2 linked regions of the Homo sapiens genome follow. The gene in region 2 interacts genetically with the main gene of each other region. Each region holds a gene or a part of one and is shown on either strand. Other genes may lie near its edges.

What was found. A genetic interaction does not mean that the proteins touch.
Region 1: changes in MST1R (region 2) and DOT1L together harm fitness more than expected from each alone (negative genetic interaction), as found in Homo sapiens cells (one large-scale study listed by BioGRID).

Annotation. Positions count from the first base shown.
Region 1 is NC_000019.10:2,229,933-2,233,078, reverse strand, and holds the end of DOT1L (histone-lysine N-methyltransferase, H3 lysine-79 specific), read right to left. Parts: 3' UTR 2,917-3,146; coding exon of another isoform or gene 2,467-2,916; 3' UTR 501-2,466; downstream 1-500. Other genes in the region: PLEKHJ1 (pleckstrin homology domain-containing family J member 1), read left to right, coding at 2,467-2,916. UniProt on the Homo sapiens protein: Histone methyltransferase. Methylates 'Lys-79' of histone H3. Nucleosomes are preferred as substrate compared to free histones. Binds to DNA.
Region 2 is NC_000003.12:49,897,374-49,900,873, forward strand, and holds part of MST1R (macrophage-stimulating protein receptor isoform 1 preproprotein), read right to left. Parts: intron 1,891-3,500; coding exon 1,702-1,890; intron 1,623-1,701; coding exon 1,494-1,622; intron 1,316-1,493; coding exon 1,145-1,315; intron 839-1,144; coding exon 678-838; intron 313-677; coding exon 147-312; intron 44-146; coding exon 1-43. UniProt on the Homo sapiens protein: Receptor tyrosine kinase that transduces signals from the extracellular matrix into the cytoplasm by binding to MST1 ligand. Regulates many physiological processes including cell survival, migration and differentiation.

The sequences.
Region 1 (3,146 bases), on a different chromosome or scaffold from region 2:
TCCTGAGAGGCAGTGGCTGGGCCTCCTGCACTGAGGGGAGAGCTAGAACCCCCAGCCAGGACAGGTGGAGGCTGGGACCCAGGCCTGGGGAGAACAGAGCTGCTGTGTGGTATCAGGAATCCTGTGGTGACCTGGGGTCCTGCCTCTGGCATTCACGGGCCCTCCCGGAGTGTGGCTGGGGCCTGGGCGGGCTTTGGTCCATCTGATGTGAAAAGGACTTTGCCGATGTCATTGGGGTCGCAGATCTGGTTTTCCGTTCATCAAAAGGCACTTTGCCTGTGGCCTGGTGCCCTCATAAGCCTCCCCTTGCCTGTGGCCTGGTGCCCTCATAAGCCTCCCCAAGGCCAGGGTGTCCTGGTGTCAGCCCCCGGAGCTTCTGCTAGGAGCACCCCTAGGCCCTCCACTCCCCGTTTCGGCGATGACACACTAGCCGGGGCCTCTCACTGGCCGCCAGGAGACGCCTCATGCCACCTGGAAGAAAGGCTGCCATTCACACCAGGTCCGAGTGAAAACAGTCTGTTTATTACAGCGTCTAGAGGTGGGGATGCAGAATGCAGGGGTGCCCAGAGGAAGGGGCGCCTGCAGCCCAGGGGCGGACCGTGACAATGCGCGCAATCCAAATACAGTTCACCCGGAAGACACGGCAGAGCCTCCCACGTTACAAAGGCTGACACAGACCAGCAGCGTGTTGTGTTGGGAGGGGGGTCTGACCACGATGGCGAGGGCAGTCGGCGGGGGGTGGGGGGCCTGCTGACCACTGAACAGACTGACGCATCCTGGGGGCAGATAAATTAAGGGGGAAGTCTTAAATAAGTCACTGTGCGTGCCTCATGGGCCGAGGAGGGGGTATCCTAGTTTTTAGGGTTCCTATCAATTCCTGAGCAAGAGCCACTCCCAGGCGCCGCCCGCCCACCCACAGTCAGCAGCAGCAGCACAGGTCCCCGCCAGCTGCCCACGGAAACTCAGGCCAGGTGCCAGCACCAGGCTCCAGATCCCCAGTCTCCACAGCCACCCTGCCACCCGCCACACACCACCCCTCAGTCTGGGAGTGTCTGAGAAGAACACAGGCCCAGGGCTCAGAACAGGAGGGTGTCCGCAGGCAGCCACCACACTAGTTCACGTGTGGTGACACGCATATGACCCAGTGGGCTCAAGGAGACTTCTGCCTGGGCCAGTGGCTCTGAGACCCAGTGCGTGTCCTGAACATACGGTGGCCTGCGTGGGCAGGAGCCCTGCATGGCCATCTGCAGGACCCGTGATGGCACCCGGACTGCCACTGTCACCTAGAGGGAGGCAGAAGTAATACAGTGTTTAAAGAATGTGTCTTGTTCTAGACCAGGGACTCGGCCGTCTCTGCCATCAACCCTGTGGCGTATCCGGCCCGTGGCGACACAGAGCAGGCTGCCTGTCCTGAAGGCCAGGCTCGGGGCTTGGGGCTCAGGCAGAGGCACAGCACCTTCTAGCTGAGAGCACCAACGTGGGGTGGGGAGGGCACTGGGCACCACTTAAGAGGACAGGTCCGGAGCACCATCTTCAGAACTCAGCTATGTTGGAGGGTGGGGGTCTGAGAGGTTGTTGGGGGCTGGGGGAGGCAGCACCCCCCTCACCAGGCACAAGCAGGGGTCTTCAGGCCCTCCCACACAGGACTCCCCCACCTAGCAACCACAGAAGCCTTTCCTCCGTGGCTCCCTTTGGAGGCCACGTGGTAGGGATGTGACGTGTGTCCATCCTGCCCTTGGGAACCAGAACACAGGGCTGGCAGCTCCCTGGAGGGTGGATCTGTGGCACCTTGGGGAAGGGGCTCCCCGATGCCATCTCACAGGAGCAAGCACTTGAGAAGGTGGGCTCAGCAAGTGCCACACAGCCCAGGGCCAGATGCGGGGAGCTCAGACTCCCAGATCCCATCCTCCAGGGAGGGCACAGAGCCACCACTGCTCAGACAACCCAGGCCCTGACTGCTCAGGGCTCCAGAAGCACTGGAGTGGCCCTGCCTGCCTGCTACACCCCGGCCTCAGCTCCTCTCCTTCCACACCCAGTCCCAGGCACCCGCCAAGGCTGCAGAGTGGGGGGCCGACGTCACCCTGGGGCCTAGGGCCAGAGAGGCCAGGTTTCAGCAGTGCACCCTGGCCCCAGCACACCCACAGCAGCTGGGAGAACCAGCACAGGCTCCAAGGGATGGGTGCCAGGCGTGGCCCTGACAGGAAGGGATGTGGGGCAGGCAGGGGCGCCGGCAGCTCTGTCTGGGCTGCTGGGAGCTGCAACTGAGGGGTCTAGGGTCGGGGCTGACGCTGGGGCCATTTTGTGCACTGTTTGAATAAATAAGGTTTTTTCCCCTCGCTTTTCTTTCCTCTTCACTGTGCATTATACCATCTAAAAATAAAAGCTGTCAAATCTATGAAATTTATAAATTCTCATCACATCTCTATAAAATACTGCCACTCATTAGTGTGACTCTCTCCTGTACAGAAACACCAAGGGACCCACGACAGGCCTGCCCCGCATCGCAGGGCATGCTGCGAGCCATGGACAGCCGAGAAATACAAAAGTAAATGCACTTGTTCAACGTGCCCGCGCCGTCCTCACAGCACCATCGCGCAGCACATGGCCAGCTGCGTCACCGCGCAGGCCCCTTCACATGCAAGGGCGCAACCCACGCCCCGGAGGGTGAACAGTCTGGGGGTTCACAGTGCCGGGGTAAAGGTGAAGAGCTCAGGGCAGGCGCCAGGGCGCTCAGGAAGGGGCTCAGGCCGCGGGGAGGCCTCCGAGGAATGTGGTGGCGACGGGCCTGCCTTTGGTACGGGAGCAGCGCGTCGGGGGAGCCGGCCGGGCGGCGTTTCCGAGAACGGGGTTCGGCGTTGTCAGCGTCTAGTCAGCACCAAGCGGGTGGAGGCAGGCGCGGGCCTGGGGACGAGATAGCACCGGGGCAGGCTGTGGCGAATCCGCTGGCGGGCCCGCCCTGCAGACACGTGTCTTTATATAGAGCTCTCATATATAGATATTTATATTTCTCAATAAGTTGCCTTTTACCACTTAGATGGAATAAAATAAGTCAGAATTGTTTATACTTTTTAAAAAATGATAAATACTTTATCTAAAACTATCGACAGTACAAACTGGACCAGTCCCAGCCTCCTGCGGCGCGTGCC
Region 2 (3,500 bases):
CCCGTGGGCCAAAGAGGGGTTGCACTGCTATCAGCACTGGCTCCTAAGAGGACATAGAGGTGGCTTAGGCAGGTCCTCCACTCCAAGCCCCTCCCTTCCCGTACCATGCACTGGCCAAGGGCACAGACAGGGCAAGGTAGCCTCACCATGAAAGAGAAGCCTCTCAGCACGGAGGTGCCGTCTACCCGGAAGTGCTTGCCCGGTGGCATGTTAGTCACGGTGAGGCTGACGTTGGTAGGCCCCACTGCCTGGGTGCCCAAGGGCTCCAGTTCACACTCAAACTCCTCTACAAAGTCTTTCCGGGGCACTGGTCTGGGGCACCAGGGGAACCCCTGAGGTCAGCCAGGAATTACACAGGCCTAGATGCATGCCTGCCACAAGCCACAGGGCTCCTCTGAGCCAGAGAATGGCATTTCTCCACCCATGCCTCCCTCCATGGAAGGAAGGTTCTGGTGGGGCAGAGATTAACCTTGGCTGGTCCATGAGTGAACAGACAGGAAGGGCACATGAAAGCTCAAAAAGGGACAGAGACCTTTTTGACTCTCAAAAAGCAGTCAGAACCACTGCAGCTTCCCCCATCCCCCCTTGCCTCTGATAAGCAGAGAACAGGGTCTCATGGGGAAGGGGCTGCTTGGTTTCCCCCTTCAGGGAAAGGGAGGGGAGGGACCAGATTGTACCTGAGTTTTGAGCTGTCCTTGGGCAGTGGCCGGCAGGGACTTTGGCCCACAGTGACCTGATGGGTTCCCTCAGGCACCAGACCAGAAGGGTGAAGGTAGAAGTTGGAGCCACACAGGGTCAGCCTTGTACTGCCCCTTAGAGGTCCACTGTGGGGGTGGAACTGAAATGGGGGAAACAGCCTGAGTCCTCATGTGGGGTTGGGCTCTCTCAGCCCCACCTGCTTCCCCAAAGTCTCCTGCCATACCCCTTGCCTTCCCCACGCTCCAGCCATTTGGAGTCACTTGCATTCAAGCACTTTCCTGCCTCCAAGTCTTTGCATGTGGCATCCCCTCTGACAAGAATGCCCTCCTTGTAGATATGAAGGACACCCCCCAGACCTGAGAAAAATTGTGATCAAGACTTGCTGACCACCACCCCAGGCCCAGCCTGTCCCACTCTTACCTGTGCCCTGCCAGGGAAGCCATACCTCAGTAAGCTTAGGTGGGCAGTGGTCCTGTTGCCAGGAGCCAGGACACTCCTTCTGCTGGCCGCACATGTTCCCACACCAGCCACAGCCCATGAAATGCCATGCCCTTAGGCAACGCCCACAGGTCAGGAAGTGGCGGCAGCCAGGGCCTTGGATAGGTACCTGGAAAACCTGTGGGTGAAAGACAGGTGACTCAGGGGTGCCTGGAGGGAGAGATTGGGCCCTATAGACCCTCCCGGTACACAGTAGGCTAGGGTGGTAGGGCCTGTATGTCAATGCCTCCCTGGATTGGATGGAGAGTCTGTGATCCCACAACCCTGGCCCCAGGCCCTGCCCCTGCCCACCTCACCTGGTCCCCAGAGGCAAAGAGTAGGTGGTCCCCAAGACGACTGACATCCCGCTGCACGGGCTGCCCACTGTCACCCAGTGAGAAGTTGGACACATACAGCAAGTAGTTTAGTGACCTGACCAGCTCCACCTAGGACAGGTCAGATGTGAGCAAAATGGGGATGGAGACAAGGACCCAGGGCTAGGGGACTGTGGGGATGAGGACCCACCTGCAGGATACGCCCATCCATTGTGCCCATGTGTGCCACTGTGACGTTGTCAAGGCGTGTCACATACAATGCAGTGACCTGTACTGGTCCCAACAGCCCATTGAATAGGTCCACACGTGAGAAGCTGCTACTGACCAGCAGAGGGAAGTGGCGGCAGCTGGTGTTGGGGCTGAGGGCTTCCAGGCCAGGCTGGGAAAGGTCAGGGAAGGGAAGGAGTCAGGGTTCAGCCTTGTGCCCCGACCCTCTGGGGCCTTTGTCAGTGGCCACAGCAGCCCAACACTCTCACCCCTCACCTGGCCTGACTGGAGAAGGCCCTGGGCCTGCCGGTTACCATCCCACATTGCCCCCACAGGGCTCTCAGTGTAGCAAGGGCAGGGAGAAGGCCCAGGCTGGAAGGTCCACTCCTCATTCTCCCTGCCCCACCCTGCCATGCCCATCCTGATGGTGAGTTACCCCCATTCCATCCTCACAACCACCCCGTACATCTTTTTTTTTTTTTTTTTTTTTTTTTTTTTTTTTGAGACGGAGTCTCACACTGTTGCTGGGGCTGGAGGGCAATGGTGTGATCTCAGCTCACTGCAACACCTCCCGGGTTCAAGAGATTCTCCTGCCTCAGCCTCCCGAGTAGCTGGGATTACAGGTGCTCGCCACCACCCCTGGCTAATTTTTTGTATTTTTAGTAGAGATGGGGGTTTCACGATGTTGGCCAGGCTGGTCTCGAACTCCTGACCTTGTGATTAGTCCGCCTTGGTCTCCCAGAGTGCTGGGATTACAGGCATGAGCCACGGTGCCTGGCCCACCCCGTACATCTCACAGATGAGGAAACAGGCTCAAGAGGTTTGGTCTCTGGTCCAAGGCATCATAGACCCTCAAGAGGAGAGCCCAGTTGGAAGTCTCAGCTCCGCAAGAGTCTTCTCCTGCCCCCTGCTGGCTCTTCTCTGACTCTCTGTGTGCACTTCAGCAAACCCTGTCTCCTCTGGGCTTCGGTTTCCCCACTTGCATAAGGGGCTGAATGCTGGAGTTAATTGGCCAGCACAAGGTTGGGGACATGGTCCTTCTCCCTAGACTCCAAAGGTCTGCCTGTACTCCTGGCTGCTTCCTATACCCCCCTTCAGGGTACAAAAGGGATAAACCAAACCCCTACAGCCTGGGTGCCAGAACTAAGTTCTGGAAGCTAGGGGGTACTAACCTCTCCCCTGCTTTTAGCAAGGGGGTGTTTTTGGGGGCTGCAATCACGCTCCAGGGGAGGACTGTGGAAGCTCTGGGAAACCAGTACACCAGGGTATGAACTCGCGGTGTTGGAGCTGAGTGCGAGGTGCAGACGGGGCTCAGTAGCCAGCCCTAGGTGCTTAGGACTCTCTCTCACCAGCCCGGAGGGCACTCCTCGAAGCAGGAGCCTCTGAAGGCTCCATCAGACCACAGAGGCTTAACCCAGTCCTGAGACCTCAGCACTGATTAGTAGCCCTGGAGGCAAAAGTAGATGTGGAGCTGAGCCTCGAAACCCCATACACCTTGTGCCTACAGCTTGGGGTGGGTGGGGACTGGGATTTTGTCCTCACTTGAGGCAGGAAATCGGCTTGGCTTGGCCCGAGCCGGAAGGCTGCCAGGTGTTTCTAGCATGACTCAGGGACAGGTGGGGCTCTGAAGGGGAATAGAGCCCTACCTTAGTCAGGCCCACACCCTAGCCTGCTTGTCCCTAGCCCCAGGACCTTAGCTCTACGTTCCCAGGCTTAGGTAGGGGCCCCCAGCTCCTGAAAACACGTAAGTGTCCAATGTCCCATGGAGGACAGGCACCAGCT